5 linked regions of the Homo sapiens genome follow. The protein of the gene in region 5 purifies or fractionates together with the protein of the main gene of each other region. This does not show direct contact. Each region holds a gene or a part of one and is shown on either strand. Other genes may lie near its edges.

Region 1 (3,519 bases), on a different chromosome or scaffold from region 5:
GATAAGCATTACAGTTACTGCCTTTCTGCTCAGGAAGCTGAGGCAGAGAGAAGCAGCGTGACCTGTCTGAGGTCACACAATGCGACCTGGACCCTGAATCTTGTTTGTAGCCTAGCAAGCCTGGGGAGCAGGGGCCGTGTGGCCCCCCTGCTGGCTGCTCTGAGCCGAACCTGGGTGCGTGGCCGGCCGCAGCCTCACCTCAGGCCTCACCTCTCCTGGGGGGCCAGCCGGGTGCCGCTTCCGGCTGGACACCCGGCTCCGACGCATCCGGCGGAATGACTGACGCAAGGACTTCTTGAGGGACTTGACGCGGGAGAGTGGGCCCTCCAAGGCCAGCTGGTCACTGGGGTGCAGTGTGCACCTTGGGGGGATGGCAGGCTGTCAGTGCTGCTAGGTCCTGGGAGTCCTCGCGGGCCCCACTCCCAGCCCCGGGACCCAGCCGCCCCTGCTCACTTAACAAAGACCTGCCGCCGCTGCTGGTGGTCAAAGAGGCCAAAGCCATGGCTGGTGCCGAAGGCCACGAGCCGCCACTCAGAGTGCAGGGCCAAGGAGGTGACCACAGCCGGGGGCTGACACTGCACCAACACGAAGGGCTGAAAGCCAGGCTCAAAGCGCACGGGCCCTGAGCGGGCTGCCAGGCGCTCGTGCCCCTTCCAGCGGTAGCCCTCTTGGTCCTGCAGCAGGTCGGCCTCCACCTGCTCCACAGCCTGCTCCGCTGCCTCGTCATTCAGTTCCAGTACCAGCACCTGCGCAGGGTGGCAGGTGGCTCAGCAAGCCCTCAGCAAAGGGACGGCAGGGCCGCAGGATGCTACTAGTGGGGACAGCAAAGGAGCTGGGCCCAAGGCTCAAGGAAGGACAAAGGCCTCTGTCCAACCCCAGCTCTCCTGCATTTTTTTTTTTTTTTTTTGAGACAAGTCTTGCTCTGTTGCCCAGGCTGGAGCGCAGTGGCACAATCTCGGCTCACTGCAACCTCTGCCTCCCAGGTTCAAGTGATTCTCTTGTCTCGGCCTTCCAGTAGCTGGGATTACAGGCACGAGCCACAAATGCCTGGCTAATTTTTATATTTTTAGTAGAGATGGGGTTTCACCATGTTGGCCAGGCTGGTCTCGAACTCCTGACCTCAGGTGATCCGCCTGCCTTGGTCTCCCAAAGTGCTGGGATTACAGGCATGAGCCACCGTGCCCGGCCCAGCCCTTAATTCCGATTTCTGGAGAAGAAACAACCATCCCAGGGACCTCCCGCCAAGGGGATCAAGCCACCTCCATCCACCGGAAAAGCAAAGGACACAGAATGTGCGTTAGGCAGGTGGTTGGCTCCTGTCCCTGCTGTCCCCAGTCATCGACCACTCCTCCCCAGCTCCCCCTCCCCAGCCCAGCCTGCTACCTGCCCTGCCGTGCCTGCCACAGCCAGGTAGCCGCTGTACTTGCAGAGGAAGATCTTCTGGATGCCCAGCCGGGGGTCATCACTGTAGGGGTCAAAGGAGCCCACCTGGAGAAGGGGAGGGGCCCTGTGAGCAGCCACGGGGACAGGACCCAGCTGGCCTCTGCCCTTCCTGGGTCCCAGGCTCCTGGCCTCACCTTGCGGAGTGGGGGCCACTCGTCCTCGCCCTGGGCACTGAAGTTCTCGTTGGGGTCCGTGTCGGTGAGGAACACGCGCACAGTGCTGAGTTTGTAGAGCAGCCGCAGGCAGACACCCGAGGCATCCCAGAACCGCACCGTGCCGTCCTCGTGCCTGTGGGCAGAACCCACCTGCCAGGCGTGAGAGGGATGCCAGCCGGGATGCCCAGGGGCTGGCTCGTCCACCTCAGGGCTCTGCTCCCACCCCACATATCCTACTGGGAAGAGGTGGGGTAGCATCAAAGTACCCTACCCTGTGAGCAGCAGGTCCCTCTGGGGTGGGGCTGGGGTCAGGCTGGTGCCACCATCAATTGGCCACTCCTAGAAAAAGAGACCAAGAAGTCCATGGGAGAGTTTGGCTTGCGGTGGGGCTGGGGCTGGGGCCAGGGCCAGACCTACCATGGTGGAGAAGTGTGCGTTCTGCCGGCTGCCGGCGGCAATGATCCGCTCCCACAGCTTCAGCGGGATGTTGGAGACGTGGTGAGAGCAGGTGATGGCGGAACAGTGCAGAGAAGCCAGGTAGGGCAGCTGGACCGGTGGCCAGCCTGCTGTCTGCAGGTCAATCACCACCAGCTCCTCCTCAGCCAGCACCACCAGGGCATAGGGGTCGTCAAAGGCTGGGGTACAGGGCAAGGGTCAGGGGCCGGGGCCAGGAGGAAGCAGCCCAGCTCTGTGGAATCAGAAGCTCCAGGGTTGGAGCCAGGGCATCTGCAGATCCAGAAAGCCCTGTTCTTGGCTGCTTGAGCAAAGCCTTTCCATCTCCAGGAGGGCAGCAGGTGTGGGCAGTAGCCCTGGCTCTGCATGCAAGGCTGCTGAGAGCTCCCTGGCACAGGGCTCCTGGGGGGATACACCTGGCTGGAAGGCAGGGTCCCAACCAGGATAGGCACCCCAGAGGCATGCAGCTGTGCCTGCCAACCCTCTTCCCTGGTTTCTCCTCCATGGGGCCTGCTCTCCCTGCTCAGATGCACCTGTCAAGCCTCTCCCCACAGGCAGCAGCACGCGTGGTCTTCAGCACACCAGTTGCTAGGGGTGGCATTTTCTTTACTGCACACAATCACATCACCTCACTCAGGCCTGGACCCAGCTAGTGCTCAATAAATGTGCGCTGGATGATTAAACCATTTGTCTTTTTTTTTTTTTTTCTTTTCTCGAGACAGGGTTTCACACTCTGTCGCCCAGGCTGGAGTACAGTGGTGTGATCTCGGCTCATTGCAACCTCCACCTCCAGGTTCAAGCGATCCTCCTGCCTCAGGCTCCCAAGTAGCTGGGATTACAGGTGTGAGCCACGATACCCAGCTAACTTTTGTATTTTTGGTAGAGACAGGGTTTCGCCATGTTGCTCAGGCTGGTGTTGAACTCCTGGGCTCAAGTGATCTTCCCACCTTGGCCTCCCAAAATGCTGGGATTACAGGCATGAGCCACTGTGCCCAGTCTTTTTTTTCTCTTTTTTTTTTGAGATGGAGTCTTGCTCTGTCACCCAGGCTGGAGTGTAGTGGTGCGATCTCAGCTCACTGCAACCTCCGCCTCCCGGGTTCAAGCGATTCTCCTGCCTCAGCTTCCCAAGTAGCTGGGATTACAGGCACTCACCACCACGCCTGGCTAATTTTTGTTTTTCTTTTTTATTTTTTGAGACGGAGTTTCGCTCTTGTTGCCCAGGCTGGAGTGCAATGGCATGATCTCGGCTCACTGCAACCTCTGCCTCCCGGGTTCAAGAGATTCTCCTGCCTCAGCCTCTCGAGTAGCTGGGATTACAGGCACATACCACCAATGCCTGGCTAATTTTTTATTTTTAGTAGAGACAGGGTTTCACCATGTTGGCCAGGCTAGTCTCGAACCCCTAACCTCAGGTGATCTGCCATCCTTGGCCTCCCAAAGTGCTAGGATTACAGCTGAGCCACTGCCC
Region 2 (3,073 bases), on a different chromosome or scaffold from region 5:
TTGTCGTGAGTAGCAAATTAGCAGAGACCTTCGATCAGTGCCTGGCAATACAGGATAACCATCACTGATTCATGCGTATATGGAACAATTATGTTTATGTCTTCTGTATCCCAGACAAGATGCTGGTCACAAAAATGAACAAAGACAAACAATTCCTGATTTCAAATGTCTTGAGGACAGGGTCTGTGTATTTTCATATATTTGTCCCCACAACTCAGGCCAGATCCTGTCACTATATATTGCAATTACCAATAATTTTTTACAAAATGAATGAACGAATGCGTGAGTGAATAAAAGTGACATCTGCAAGGTGTTCATTAGAAATCACAAAAATAAAAAATAAAAATATAAAAGTAACATGATCAGAACTGTAATGCAGGAAGATTAATTTAGTGACTTCAGGATTGTTTCTTTTTTTTGAGATGGAGTTTCGCTCTTGCTGCCCAGGCAGGAGTGCAGTGGCGCAATCGGGGCTCACTGCAACCTCTGCCTCAGCCTCCTGAGTAGCTGGGTTTACAGGCATGCGCCACCATGCCCGGCTAATTTTGTATTTTTAGTAGAGACGGGTTTTCTCCATGTTGGTCAGGCTAGACTTGAACTCCCGACCTCAGGTGATCCGCCTGCCTCGGCCTCCCAAAGTGCTAGGATGACAGGCATGAGCCACCGCGCCCGGCCGACTTCAGGATTGTTTCAAAGGAAGATAATTGGATGCATGAGGCTAGCTTAAGATTAGTGAACTTGGCAACTCAGAAGTAATAAGAGCCTTTCATTTAGGGTGTCTGGAAAGAGGAGATGACTGGAAATGACTATAAAAATAAAAAGTTCAGGACGGGCGCGGTGGCTCATGCCTGTAATCCCAGCACTTTGAGAGGCCAAGGCGGGCAGATCACGAGGTCAGGAGATCAAGACCATCCTGGCTAACATGGTGAAACCCCGTCTCTACTAAAAAGTACAAAAAATTAGCCAGGCGTGGTGGTGGGCGCCTGTAGTCCCAGCTACTCGGGAGTCTGAGGCAGGAGAATGGCGTGAACCTGGGAGGCGGAGCTTGCAGTGAGCCGAGATCGTGCCACCGCACTCCAGCCCGAGTGACAGAGCGAGACTCTGTCTCAAAAAAAACAAATAGATAAAATAAAAAATGGAAAGTTCAGGCTGGGAGCAATGGTTTACACCCATAATCCCGGCACTTTGGGAGGCCAAGTGTGGGCGGATCACCTGATGTCAGGCGTTCGAGACCAGCCTGGCCAACAAGGTTAAACCCCATTTCTTTTTTTTTTTTTAAATAGTATTTGCACCACAGGTGCTATTGTTTATTTTAATTCCAATTAATCAAGAATTGCCACACATGCTAAGAATAAAGCTGTTGGATGTGAACTAAGGAGCACGTTGCTATTTTATTTTAGTGTCCAGATACTCAGCTGGGTTAAACCCCATTTCTACTAAAAATACAAAAGTGAGCTGGGCATGGTGGCGTGCTCCTGTAATCCCAGCTACTTGGGAGGGTGAGGCAGGAGAATTGCTTGAGCCTGGGAAGCAGAGATTACAGTGAGCCAAGATCGTGCCACTGCACTCCAGCCTAGGCAACAGAGCAAGACCCCGTCTCAAAAGGAAAAAAAAAAACAAAGGAAGGAAGTTCGACTTGTAGAGGATGTAACACTCATTGATGGATTGCCTTTGACGGTGGAGGTAGAAAGGAGGAAGACTGAAAATTTCAAACACAGGTATCTGGAAGGATGGTGATTCCATTCATGGACATAGTGGCTCCGGGAGAAAATAGACTTTATTTTTTTATATGTTGAGTTTGCCATGTCAGGAAGAAAGAAAAGAGGGAAAGAATGCTTTGTATAACCCTATTATTATTGTTGTTGTTATTGAGATGTAGTCTTGCTCTGTCACCAGGCTGGAGTACCGTGGTGTGATCTTGGCTCACTGCAACCTCTGCTCCAAGGGTCAAGCAATCTTCCCACCTCAGCCTCCCGAGTACTTGGAACTATAGGTGTCCACCATCATGCCTGGCTTTTTTTTTTTTTTTTTTTTTTTTTTTGGTAGAGAAGGGGTTTTGCCATGTTGCTCAGGCTGCTCTTGAACACCTGCATTCAAGCTCTCTGCCCACCTCGCCCTCCCAAAGTGCTGTGATTACAGATGGGACCCATCGTGCCTGGCCCTAACATTTTTTAATTAATCAAAAAAGAAGAAGAGTTGCTATAAATACTTCATCCATGGTTTAAAGTGCAACCTATATATAAGCTGTTGTCAGGCCAAGTGCGGTAGCTCACACCTGCAATTGTAGCACTTTGGAAGGCCTAGATGGGAGGATCACTCAAGCTCAGGAATTCAAGACCAGCCTGGACAACATAGCAAGATCCTGTCTCCACCACACACAAGAAAAGATAAATAAGCCAGGCTTACTTATGGTGTGTGCCTGTAGACCCCGCTACTAGAGAGGCTGTGGCAGGAGGCTGGCTTGAGCCCAGGAGTTCAAGGTTGCAATGAACTATGATTGCACCACTGCACTCCCTCCTGGGTGACACAGCAAGACCCTGTCTCTAAAAAATAATATCTTTAGCCTGGCGTGGTGGCTCACGCCTGTAATCCCAGCACTTTGGGAGGCCGAGGTGGGCGGATCACGAGGTCAGGAGTTCGAGACCAGCCTGGCCAATATGGTGAAACCCCATTTCTACTAAAAGTACAAAAAATTAGCCGGACGTGGTGGTGGGCACCTGTAGTCCCAGCTACTCATGAGGCTGAGGCAGGAGAATCACTTGAACCCAGGAGGCAGAGGTTGCAGTGAGCAGAGATTGCACGACTGTACTCCAACCTGGGTGACAAAGCAAGACTCTGTCTCAAAAATATATATATATGTATATATACATAATATGTAATAATATATATAATATTTCTATTTTAGAGACAGGGTCTCTAAAGTTACAACACCGTACATGTGTGGAATATATTTACATATATTCTCTCTCTCTCTCTCTCTATATATATATATATACACACACACATATATATTCTATATATACACACACACACACACACACACACACACACATATATATATATACACATCTGG
Region 3 (3,519 bases), on a different chromosome or scaffold from region 5:
GGCCTGACTAGGTGAGATTTTCGGGACAGATAATGGGAGGTACAGATAGTCAGCCAGCCGGGTAGAGAAGGCAAACAAACCCCTTGGTGTGTGTGGGAGGGGGTCCAGAAGAGGGCAGACACAAGACCAAGTGGGCAAAGGGAGAAAAGGCCAGTTCTCGCATCAGCTATTCTAATGAGCTCTAAAACACGAGCCATCGTCTCTCAGTTGAGGAGGAGCGGGAGGTTGGAGAAACCTCAGTTGTGGATTCTTCCTTGGTCAGATATTGACCAAGCATCTGCAGTGCGAGGCGCTGCTCAACAGAGAACCTCAGCCCCGCCTTCCTGAGCTGCAGAGTGCAGGGAGCAGAACCTCAGCCCCACCTTCCTGAGCTGCAGAGTGCAGGGAGCAGGCAGCACTCACTGGGCAGCTACGAGGGTGGGAGCAGGCTTGGGGCAAGTGCCCAGGGTGGGGCCTGCCACTGGCCTGGTCACGGGGCATCCCTCGGCAAGCAGGTACTTCTGCACACCTCCTGTGAGGCAGGCATGGGGCATCCGCTATGATGGAGACAGACTGTGTCCCAGCCTGCACAGCCCTCCCTTTGGTCCAGAGGGGAAGACACACCAGACGGGAATCACATACTGGTGTGTTTAGTTCTAACTGTAAGATGTGCCAGGAAGATGGGCTGGATATTCTCCATTGGCCCTTTCAAATCCCTTCTCTTCACCTTCTCTTTATGCATGGGAGGCTGACCTTATCACCTGGTGGCTGTGCCACCTCGATTCGTTGGTCTTCTGGCATTCAGGTGGGTCCAGCCAGTGGGAGGCACCAGTAGGTGATAGGAGAGTGAGTGCAGAGAGCTCATGAGTGTGTGTGACCCTGTTCCCCAGTGGTGCATGGCTCTGGTGGCAGCTGGGCTCCCTACCTAACTCCCTCCCTGCTGAGTGACTCCAGAATTCAGCTCCCTCCAGGGTGAGTTGTACCTTCCCCGACCCTTGCCCTTCAGGCTCCTGCATTTCCCTGAAACTCTGCCCATACCTCTGTGAATTGTCCCTTCCCAAAGCCCTCCTCCAGGAATCCCTGCAGCGCGCCACTGTCTCCTGCTGGGGCACTGACTGGTGCAGGAGGGAAGTGCAGGGTTCTGAGGGAGGCAGAGCCAGGGTCCTGACCTGTGTCGGGGGGCAGTTTGCTTTCTCTGCCTTATGAGGGAAGTCCTCCCCAGCCTTCAAAGTCTCCCCTCCAGCATCACCTCCTCCAGGAAGCCCTCCCTGCCTCTCTAGCCAAGGTCAGATTAGGCTTCTATTGCTCTTTCCTTCAGAGCACTGATCTCAGTTTGCACCTTCACATTCAGGAGTATGTCTAATCTGATTACCTATCACACTCCTGAATATCACGCTCCTGAACATGAAGGTGTAAGCTTTGCCTGAAGTCCCAGAGACACTCAGCAGCGGTGCAGAATTTGCACCTGGGTCTGTCTGGTTCCCACTCACCTATCACCACAGGGCTGCGGGTCAGAGCTCAGGATCCAGCACTTGAGACTGTCACTGCTCACCCTGTCACCAACTTGCTGGAGAGAGCCTGGGTCAGCTTCTGTTCACCACTGACTCTCCTGGGCCTGGCCAGAGTAGCTGTTCAAAAGGAATTCTTGACTGGAAATAATGAGCATCCGAAAAGGCATTTCAAGAAACAAATACCACCGCCCCCAAATGGAAGGCTATAATGTTCTTATTGTTAGCAAGAAAAATAACATGGCTATTATAGCTAAATTAACTAAATGGCCTGCCACCTGAGAATCTATTGTTTATGGCAAGACAGGGCCTAGGGACATTACATTACAGGCAAATTCTTTTTCCTTTTTCTTCATAGGTTTGCTCTGGAATTAGTCACAGAAAAGGGCCATACATTTGCCGAAGAGCTTCAGAAAGTGAGTAACACCATCTCACCCAAGCTGGGAATCTTCAGCCCCGGTGGCCATCACGGGACTCAGCATCCAGCCACCAGTTACTCTTTGTGTCACCTGGGGCTAGTTACTCTCCCTCTGTGAGCTCCATTTCTTCATCTGTAAAATGCGGACAGGCCAGGTATGGTGGCTCACACCTGCAATCTCAGCTACTTGGGAGACTGAGGCAGGAAGATCACTTGAGGCCAGGAGCCTAGGTAACATAATAAGACCCTGACTCTACAAAATATTTGAAAATTAGCCAGGCATAGTGGTGAATGCCTGTAGCCTTAGCTACTCAGGAAACTGAGGTAGGAGGATCTCTTGAGCCCAGGAGGTCAAGGCTGCAGTGAGCTGTGATCATGCCACTGCACTCCTGCCTGGGCAAGAGATTGAGACCCTGTCTCAGGCCGAGCACCATGGTTCAATTAAGCCTGTAATCCCAGCACTTTGGGCGGCCAAGGTGGGAGCATCACTTCAAGCCAGGAGTTCAAGACCAGCCTGGGCAACTTAGGGAGACCCTGTCTCTACAAAAAAAAAAAAAAATTAAAAATTAGCCAAGTATGGTGGCATGCACCCATAGTCCCAGCAACTTACAAGGCTGAGGTGGGAGAATCGCTTGAGTCTTACAGGTTGAGGCTGCAGTGAGATGTGATTACACCACTGCACTGTAGCCTGGGCAACAGAGTGGGATCCTGTCTTTAAAAAAAAAAAAAAAAAAAAACCTCTGTCTCCAAAACAAACAACTGGAGACATATAATCTTCCTTCACAGGCGAGTGGGGAGGATTGTACTAAATGAGGGAATTTAAAATGCAACGGTTCTCAACCCAGGGCCATTCTGCCCCTCAGGGCCCGCTGAGCAATATCTGGAGACATTTTTGGTTGCCACATCTGGGTGTTGGGGGTGTTGCTGGCATGTAAATATCCTGCAATGCAGGGGACAGCCCCCGTCAACGAAGAATGACCCGGCCTTGAATGGCAATAGCACCGAGGCTGAGAAAGCCGGTGTGAAGTGCCTCGCTCATGCCCGATGCAGAGGGAACCTGGGAAGCCTAGCTGCAGTGAGCCCTCAGCCCGTGGGACTCATGCGTCACAGTGTCACTGTTCTGTTCCCTAAGAAGGAGGGGGCCTCTGACCCACGCAGAGAACTTCAAGCACGGAGACAGGGTCACCACCCCAGAATGCCCAGGGTGCCGCACTTTCCACCTCCACATGGACCCAGGTCCCCAGAAACCGCTCCCCGCAGGGTCAGCCCTTCCCACTTCCGTTCTGAAGCCCAGGCTGGAGCCTGCTCAGGCCCCTGGGAACAGACGGAGGGTAGTAGGTGGGGCTGCCACAGGCTGTGGCTGCAGGAGGAAGCCTCAGCTGCCAGAACATTCTGTGTGGTGGAGGAAGGCTTTCAACCTCCTGAGGAGCCGCGGTAGCAGCGGTCATTTCTGTCTGCTGTACGCGTTGGGTCGCAGCTGTCACGTCACCTCCTCAAGGGCCTTCCCTGGCCACCTAATCTCCAGCTGGGTTAGGCACTGCTCCTGGATTTCCACATCCTCTAACCACAGGCATCACAAGGGGTGTTAACCTGTTCACCCATCCACCTCCCACC
Region 4 (3,519 bases), on a different chromosome or scaffold from region 5:
CAGGTTTGCTGGTAAAGGGGAGACAGTACTAAACGCCCTGCCCAACAAATACTCAGAATCCAGGGTTTTCATATTTCTCCATGGTTCAATCTCTCACAGGTCACTTTCCATTCAAAGGATTATGGAGACCAAATAAGACAGGATTCTTTCAGGTATCAACCCAGAGTCTTTAGGTCTTCTCTCAGCCAAGGCATCGAGTGAAAATACAATTTATTTTTCGGATTCCTCTGGAGGATTAAAAAGTTTCTTTCGCATTGCAATGCCATGCTCCCTGCTCTTGGTCCTGTTTTCTACGTACTGAAAAATAAAAGAAGGGGGGGAGAAAAGAAACAGCAGATTATGTCACTATTTATAGCAGTTTACTATTTAGAAATATTTGCAAAATATAAATGTCCTTTGAGGTTAACAGGGTTTAAATTTTTTAAACATGTTCTTACTGACAAAATTCTTATCTTTTATTTAACCAAATCTGAGATTGGAAATAGTTACCTTAGAGAGTATCTCATATCTAGCACAATTTCATTCAATACAGTACAGCATCTACATGCTAATAGATGCACAAATGTTTGCTCAATCAATTTCCTCCCAAAATTTGAATTAAATAAGTACTGAAGATGGGCAAATTCTGTCCATGTTCTCCAGGGGCTTGCAGTCTAACTAGTCCTCTAACTTCTGCTGAGTACCTCTAGTGGAGAGGCTCACTTCCTTGAGAGGTAGCCTGTCTAACTGTTGGGACAATTCTACTCATTCCCAAGTTTTTCATTTTAAACCAAAAGTGCTTCCCTGTAAACTCCTTGAGAGGTAGCCTGTCTAACTGTTGGACAATTCTACTCGTTCCAAAGTTTTTCATTTTAAACCAAAAGTGCTGCCTTGTCAACTACCACCTTTTATTTCTTCTTGTCTGCTATAATTTTCAAACATTTAATTACAGATAACCCACTTACTACCTTTTGCGCTGAACATTGCTAGTTTCCACAACTGCTGCACAGAACACAGCCTCCATCTTTTAATATCTAACCTATAAAATGACTTTTATTTCATAAAGCACTTTAACATTAATGCCCCTTACCAAAAAAAAAAATCACAACCAAAATTGAATACAGTGCTCCAGTCACAATGACAGACATAGACTACAGTGGGCCTACATCTTAGACCAGCTCACATTGTATTTCTTTAGACATTATCAAGAGTAACTAGCTCTTAGCAACCATATTATCCTATTGACTCATATGGAAATACATAGCTCAACTTCCCAAGGTTTCTTCATCACGAACAGTTAACAAACCTGATACTCCTCAAATCCTATGTTTCTTAATCAGCTACATATAAACACAGTTTTCACCTCAAGAGGTTTTCAGCCTAGTATTCTGATCTGGCCAGCAGGTTACAACAGGAGACACAAAGCCTGGCACTTAGATTTTCTTAAATAGTTAACCTACATTTAAAGCAGAGGACCTTAAAAGTGTTTTTATATGTATATATGTACATGCTTATAATACATACACCAATCCAACACACTTTAAAGGTGGATGAGTGTGTTTTCCCCTGGGCAGAAGGGGAAAAGGGTAAAAGTAAATTCAAACAGAAAAAACTGAAAACATGTGAACAGTTAAACATCAGAATCTTTTAGGAGCCACAGATCTGGAGAGCGAGGCCACAGAAATTAAAGATTAGTGATACCGAGCTCATCAGGGACAAACCCCGCCACCCAAGAGAGAGTAATGAGGGGATTCATGACTTTGAGTTACTTCACTCTTCTGGACCAGTAACTTCAAATATAAGGAGGTGGGCTAGATAATCTTTAAGAAGTTTTCTAGGTCAAAAGTTTTGACTGAAGGATTCTAACATATCTTCTGGAATGGTAGTTTTCAAACTTTTTATTACTTCCTTGTCAAAAGGCTACTTCAGGCCGGGTGCGGTGACTCATGCTTATAATCCCAGCACTTTGGGAGGCTGAGGCGAGCAGATCACCTGAGGTCAGGAGTTAGGGACCAGCCTGGCCAACATGGTGAAACCCCGTCTCTACTGAAAATACAAAAATTAGCAGGGCATGGTGGCATGCACCTGTAATTCCAGCTATTCAGGAGGCTGAGGCAGGAGAATCACTTGAATCCAGAAGGAGGAGGTTGCAGTGAGCCGAGATCGCACCACAGCACTCCAGCCTGGGTGACAAGAGTGAGACTTCGTCTCAAAAAAAAAGCTACTTTAAATTACACATGAAGCACCAGGTCCCTTCAAAGTCATTCATTTTATCTATCATACATTAAATTTACTCATAAAATTGTTGGGGAAAAAATCAATAAAACGTATTCTAGAACAAGGAAGGATACCTGCTCTGAGAAAAAGCTTTCATATCTACCTTTAATCACGTCTACTGGATTGCCCCCAGCAATCAGGTTGAGAAGGGTCTTAAGGGAAACTCTTCAGAAGATAATACTTTGTAGCAGGCCAATAAAATAAGTTACAAAGCAAATTAAAATATAGTCTACATTAAAATATGCTAAGACATCTCCAAAGGAAGTCCAGATGGTCCCTGAATAAAAGGGGAGAAAAGGATGAATATGAAGTTACTCACAAAACTCAATCAAACAATACAGACAGAATGAAAGGCCAATTAACCCCAAACCAAACAAAACAATTAAGAGGGACAAAAGAGAATGCCACAAAAGTACTATTAGTGTTTCTTTTCAAGAAGAAGAACAAAAGGCCAGGTGCAGTGGCTCACACCTGTAATCCAAAACTTTGGGAGGCCAAGATGGGAGAACTCCTTGAGCCCAGGAGTCTGAGACCACCCTGGGCAACACAACAAGACTCCATCTCTCTAAAAAAAAGAAAAAAAAAAAGAATAAAAGGAGTGACACAGCGGAGTCCCAACAAGAAATGGCCATACCCTTTTTCTACTTAAAAGCTTCATGGAGGCTGGGCGCAGTGGCTCACGCCTGTAACCCCAGCACTTTAGGAGGCCAAGGCGGGCGGATAACAAGCTCAGAAGATCAAGACCATCCTAGCTAACACGGTGAAGCCCCGTCTCTACTAAAAATACAAAAAATTAGCTGGGCGTGGTGGTGGGCACCTGTAGTCCCAGTTACTCAGGAGGCTGAGGCAGGAGAATGGCGTGAACCCGGGAGGAGGAGCTTGCAGTGGGCTGAGATTGCGCCACTGCACTCCAGCCTGGGTGACAGAGTGAGACTCTGGCAAAAAAAATAAAAAAATAAAAAAGCTTCATGGAATGAAGTAATCAGATGACATATGAAGCAAACAGTAGCAGGAAAGCATCTGAAGCAAGCATTAAGAGTAGAGAAGAAATACATGAGTGCAGACTCAGAGATTAGTGATGGGCAAGCAGACAGAAAAACATCTACAAATTAGAGAATAAACATCTACAAATTAGAGAATAAAGTAACATAACTACACAGAGGACTTAGAAAAGAATTCAAAGAGAAAACATGAGATGTATAGGAAAACAAACTCAGACAAAATAAGAAAAATATCTCCAACGGTCTACCAAAAAGTCACTAA
Region 5 (3,519 bases):
TGGAAATGTCTGACCCAAATTCATTCAATTATGTGAACTTTAAAAGAAATATTAATTTTTTAAAATTTTGAGTACATAATTATATACAAATACAAATTTTGAGTGACAGTTTTTATAGCCACTGTCCATTTCCTATAGAAAATGCCATTTTTCTACTGCAGACATTCCAGTTAATAAAATGAATAGTCCATATTTGCTCAATTCATTTAAGCAATTGCCGTCTACAAAGCCACATATATAACATTGTTCCTGAGATTTATGGATTTATTGATTGAGGTTTTCAAAAGCAATGAAACCCTCTGATGGAAAGGATATCTCGTTGTTTAGGAACGTATGAAAGCTTTTTTCTACAAATATTGAGATTTCAGAAAAATAGCTTAATAAGATGAGAAATGTTTTAAATATGTTTTTGATAACAAGAATTAATAAAGTCACTGGTATAGTTTTGCAGCGTGCCAACCTACGTTTTGTTTTCCTAGGTGTGTTTCCATTGTAGAAAACCTGGTCATGGAATTGCAGATTGCCCCGCCGCCCTTGAAAATCAAGACATGGGCACTGGGATATGTTACAGGTGTGGGTCCACAGAGCACGAAATAACCAAGTGTAAGGCTAAAGTAGACCCGGCTCTTGGTATGTGTTTCTTTCAGTTTTTTGTTTTGTTCATGGGGAAAGCCAATAAATAGCACCTTGGGTATTTTTTTAACACAATTTGTTACGAGTGTGCCACTTAGTATTTGGAAATCATATGAGATTAAATTTTAAGTTATGTAAATATATTTTTTATTCAGAGTATTTTAAAATAATGTTAATTTTATGACTTGCCATATGTATTGTCAACTGAATAGGAACTGTTGATTTTTACAGGCGAATTTCCTTTTGCAAAATGTTTTGTTTGTGGAGAAATGGGGCACCTGTCTAGATCTTGTCCTGATAATCCCAAAGGACTCTATGCTGATGGTAAGTACTGTTACCCTCATATAGCAGAAATGGTGAGTCATCGTGCAGTTGTGATTTAATTTACACTCAATCACAGTTCTTGAATAAATTCTTGAATAAATTGCAAAACCTTGAGAATTACATTATTTTTATCAAGTGCTATCATATGTACTAGGCTTTTTGTGCAATTTGACTTCAGATGTTAATAAAACAAATCAGAAAAAACTAAGGTGTATATTTCCAACTGTGCTTGCTTCATCATTTGTGAGACTATGTCATACATTTCTACTTTTAGACATAACAGAAGCAGAGAGATTATATCTCAAGCTAATATGAGGTTTTTAAAATCGTATTATATATTCAGCCTCAGCCAGCATATCATTTTGGTGGAGGGGTGGGTACAGATGATTCAATATTGTAGTAATGTTTGCTTCTGAATTTTTTTTCTTAGTTATTTGTCTGGTATGGGATCATGTAGCTTTTTTCTCTTTAACTCGGGTAATTAAGGTTCACACAGTAAAGTCTATGCGGTCTAAAGCTTTAAGGCGGAGGTTGTTATCTGTTAATGTGATGGCTGGTGCCATCAGGCTCTAGACGTTTCTTGTGTCATGTCCTGGGTTTCCCTCCTGGAGAAGTCCAGTGAAAAAGCATAGCTTTTGGAGTTGGTCAGACTTGGGTTACAGCGCCAGCACTGCCACTCACTAGCTGGGGGGCTTTGGCCAACTACCAAACTCTGATCTCCGTTTCCTCACCTATAGAGTGGAGATGATAAAACTATATTTTATTGATTCTAAGATGCACAGTTTTTCAATTTTAATCTCTTGGAAATCAGAATGTATCTTACCGTTGGTGGGTCCCATATAATTGACAGCTGTTTTTCTTTCTGAGAGGTATGTGCAATAATGATACATCTTATAATCAGTGGTGTCTTAGAGTTGATGAATTATGGTATTTGCCTAAAGAATTTTTATAAGGATTAAAATGTATTATTCAAGTGCTTCTCTTTCACTATGGCATATAAAGAGGCCAGGGCCTGGAAAATGCTCAGGTGCATTTCAGTTTTGAGCTTATAAAACTGGGTAGATAACATGACTAGTGAGCAAAAATGGCTTTCACTGGTCAACCAAAGTGACTAGCTGTAAAAAAAAAAAAAAAAAAAAAAATTAATGCAGCAAGGAGAGTAGATCCCATAGATGTGAAAATTTGGCCATATTTGCCTGTGTGTGCCTTGATTTTATACCTTGTAATCTTTTGTTTACAATAAGGGGCTTTCTGCGATTTGTTTTAATTTAGAACACTTTAGTAGCAATAGAAACACTGGATACATTTTTGTATGGTACATTTGATGTATATAGAATTAGTACTTTATTTTTAAGAGGTAAAGCATTATGTTGGGGGAAAAGTAGGGTGGGTTTCCACATTTGCATTTTTATGTTAAAAATAAAGTCAAGATTTGGGGGAAAAAAAAAAGAAAATTCAGCCAGATTTGTATCTGATTAGGTCATTTTTCTAAGTCACTTAACATTTCGAGCATGATCAAGATAATGCTTGACCATTAAGCAATAGTGTTTGATCATTAAGTGAAACACTTATTTTAGAAACCACATGTGTTGTAATTCACAATCCTGGAATGTTGTTTAAAGTAGGCAGGTGGGCATTTTTATAGGGTTAGGGTGCCTGGCCAGTGGAAGGCACTGAAACAAAAATTAACTTTATTTCTTTCATAAATGCTTACCCCCATCTGATCTGTACAGTAGAACAGTAGTTTCTAATCTGTTTTTGGGCCATTGACTGTTTGAGAATCTGACATGCTATTCAGGAAAGTGCATCTGCTTACATCTTTTGTTTACAGGTCCAAGGGTTCACAGACTCTTGATTGTCTAAGCATTGTTAAGATCCAGGCTTCTGTGCAATAGCTCTTGAACAAGTGCCTTCCATCATATCTCATTTCTTTTTCCTACTTCTCAAGGCCAGGTGCAAGAAGCAGTGGGTGGGTACAATTTAGTGCTCTGTGAGGTTAAAAGGAATGGAGAATGAATTAATAGGAATAGTGGCACCTCCCTATGATCCTGGTCTAGCTACCTTTACAACTGACAGGGTTGTGAGGATCCAGTAAGATGTGAAAGTGCTTTGAGATGTTAAAAACCCCTTGCAAGTATGAGATGGTATTCAGTGGCTTTGCTCTTTCAATAGGTGGCGGTTGCAAACTTTGTGGCTCTGTGGAACATTTAAAGAAAGATTGCCCTGAAAGTCAGAATTCAGGTGAGATCTCTGGGCCTCTACTTAGAAGGGGTGAGATTAGTATTCCTCTGCGTTTTATTCTGCACTTGTTATTAATAACTCAATTGGGATACTAATGATTTTAAGACAACCTGTTTTCCTACTGTAGCAATGACTTAATCTCTGTCAGCAATAGACACACATAGTATTGAGTAACTGAATAGTTGGGGGAAAAAAGTGACCAGTAAGCCTTAGGGGACCCTGACTTTATAAGACACCTGATTCATAAGCATTTATATTTGCTAACTAATGAATTTAATATAATAGAGCCAATTCTGTTACTTACAGAAAAATATGAATTCA

What was found.
Region 1: the proteins of ZCCHC9 (region 5) and LLGL2 purify together in Homo sapiens (co-immunoprecipitation; one large-scale study listed by IntAct). This does not show direct contact.
Region 2: the proteins of ZCCHC9 (region 5) and OR1M1 purify together in Homo sapiens (affinity purification with mass spectrometry; one large-scale study listed by BioGRID and IntAct). This does not show direct contact.
Region 3: the proteins of ZCCHC9 (region 5) and MMAB purify together in Homo sapiens (affinity purification with mass spectrometry; one large-scale study listed by BioGRID and IntAct). This does not show direct contact.
Region 4: the proteins of ZCCHC9 (region 5) and CMC2 purify together in Homo sapiens (affinity purification with mass spectrometry; one large-scale study listed by BioGRID and IntAct). This does not show direct contact.

The regions. Positions count from the first base shown.
Region 1 is NC_000017.11:75,567,190-75,570,708, reverse strand, and holds part of LLGL2 (LLGL scribble cell polarity complex component 2), read right to left. Parts: intron 2,234-3,519; coding exon 2,016-2,233; intron 1,938-2,015; coding exon 1,870-1,937; intron 1,732-1,869; coding exon 1,578-1,731; intron 1,489-1,577; coding exon 1,384-1,488; intron 747-1,383; coding exon 454-746; intron 362-453; coding exon 211-361; coding exon of another isoform or gene 199-210; intron 1-198. UniProt on the Homo sapiens protein: Part of a complex with GPSM2/LGN, PRKCI/aPKC and PARD6B/Par-6, which may ensure the correct organization and orientation of bipolar spindles for normal cell division.
Region 2 is NC_000019.10:9,090,059-9,093,131, forward strand, and holds part of OR1M1 (olfactory receptor 1M1), read left to right. Parts: intron 1-3,073. UniProt on the Homo sapiens protein: Odorant receptor.
Region 3 is NC_000012.12:109,563,503-109,567,021, reverse strand, and holds part of MMAB (corrinoid adenosyltransferase MMAB precursor), read left to right. Parts: coding exon of another isoform or gene 1-11; intron 12-1,845; coding exon 1,846-1,903; intron 1,904-3,519. UniProt on the Homo sapiens protein: Converts cob(I)alamin to adenosylcobalamin (adenosylcob(III)alamin), a coenzyme for methylmalonyl-CoA mutase, therefore participates in the final step of the vitamin B12 conversion.
Region 4 is NC_000016.10:80,975,883-80,979,401, forward strand, and holds part of CMC2 (COX assembly mitochondrial protein 2 homolog), read right to left. Parts: intron 298-3,519; coding exon 211-297; 3' UTR 1-210. UniProt on the Homo sapiens protein: May be involved in cytochrome c oxidase biogenesis.
Region 5 is NC_000005.10:81,308,082-81,311,600, forward strand, and holds part of ZCCHC9 (zinc finger CCHC domain-containing protein 9), read left to right. Parts: intron 1-479; coding exon 480-630; exon of another isoform or gene 631-864; coding exon 865-957; exon of another isoform or gene 958-2,893; coding exon of another isoform or gene 2,894-2,945; intron 2,946-3,129; coding exon 3,130-3,198; intron 3,199-3,519. Other genes in the region: ACOT12 (acetyl-coenzyme A thioesterase), read right to left, coding at 2,894-2,945. UniProt on the Homo sapiens protein: May down-regulate transcription mediated by NF-kappa-B and the serum response element.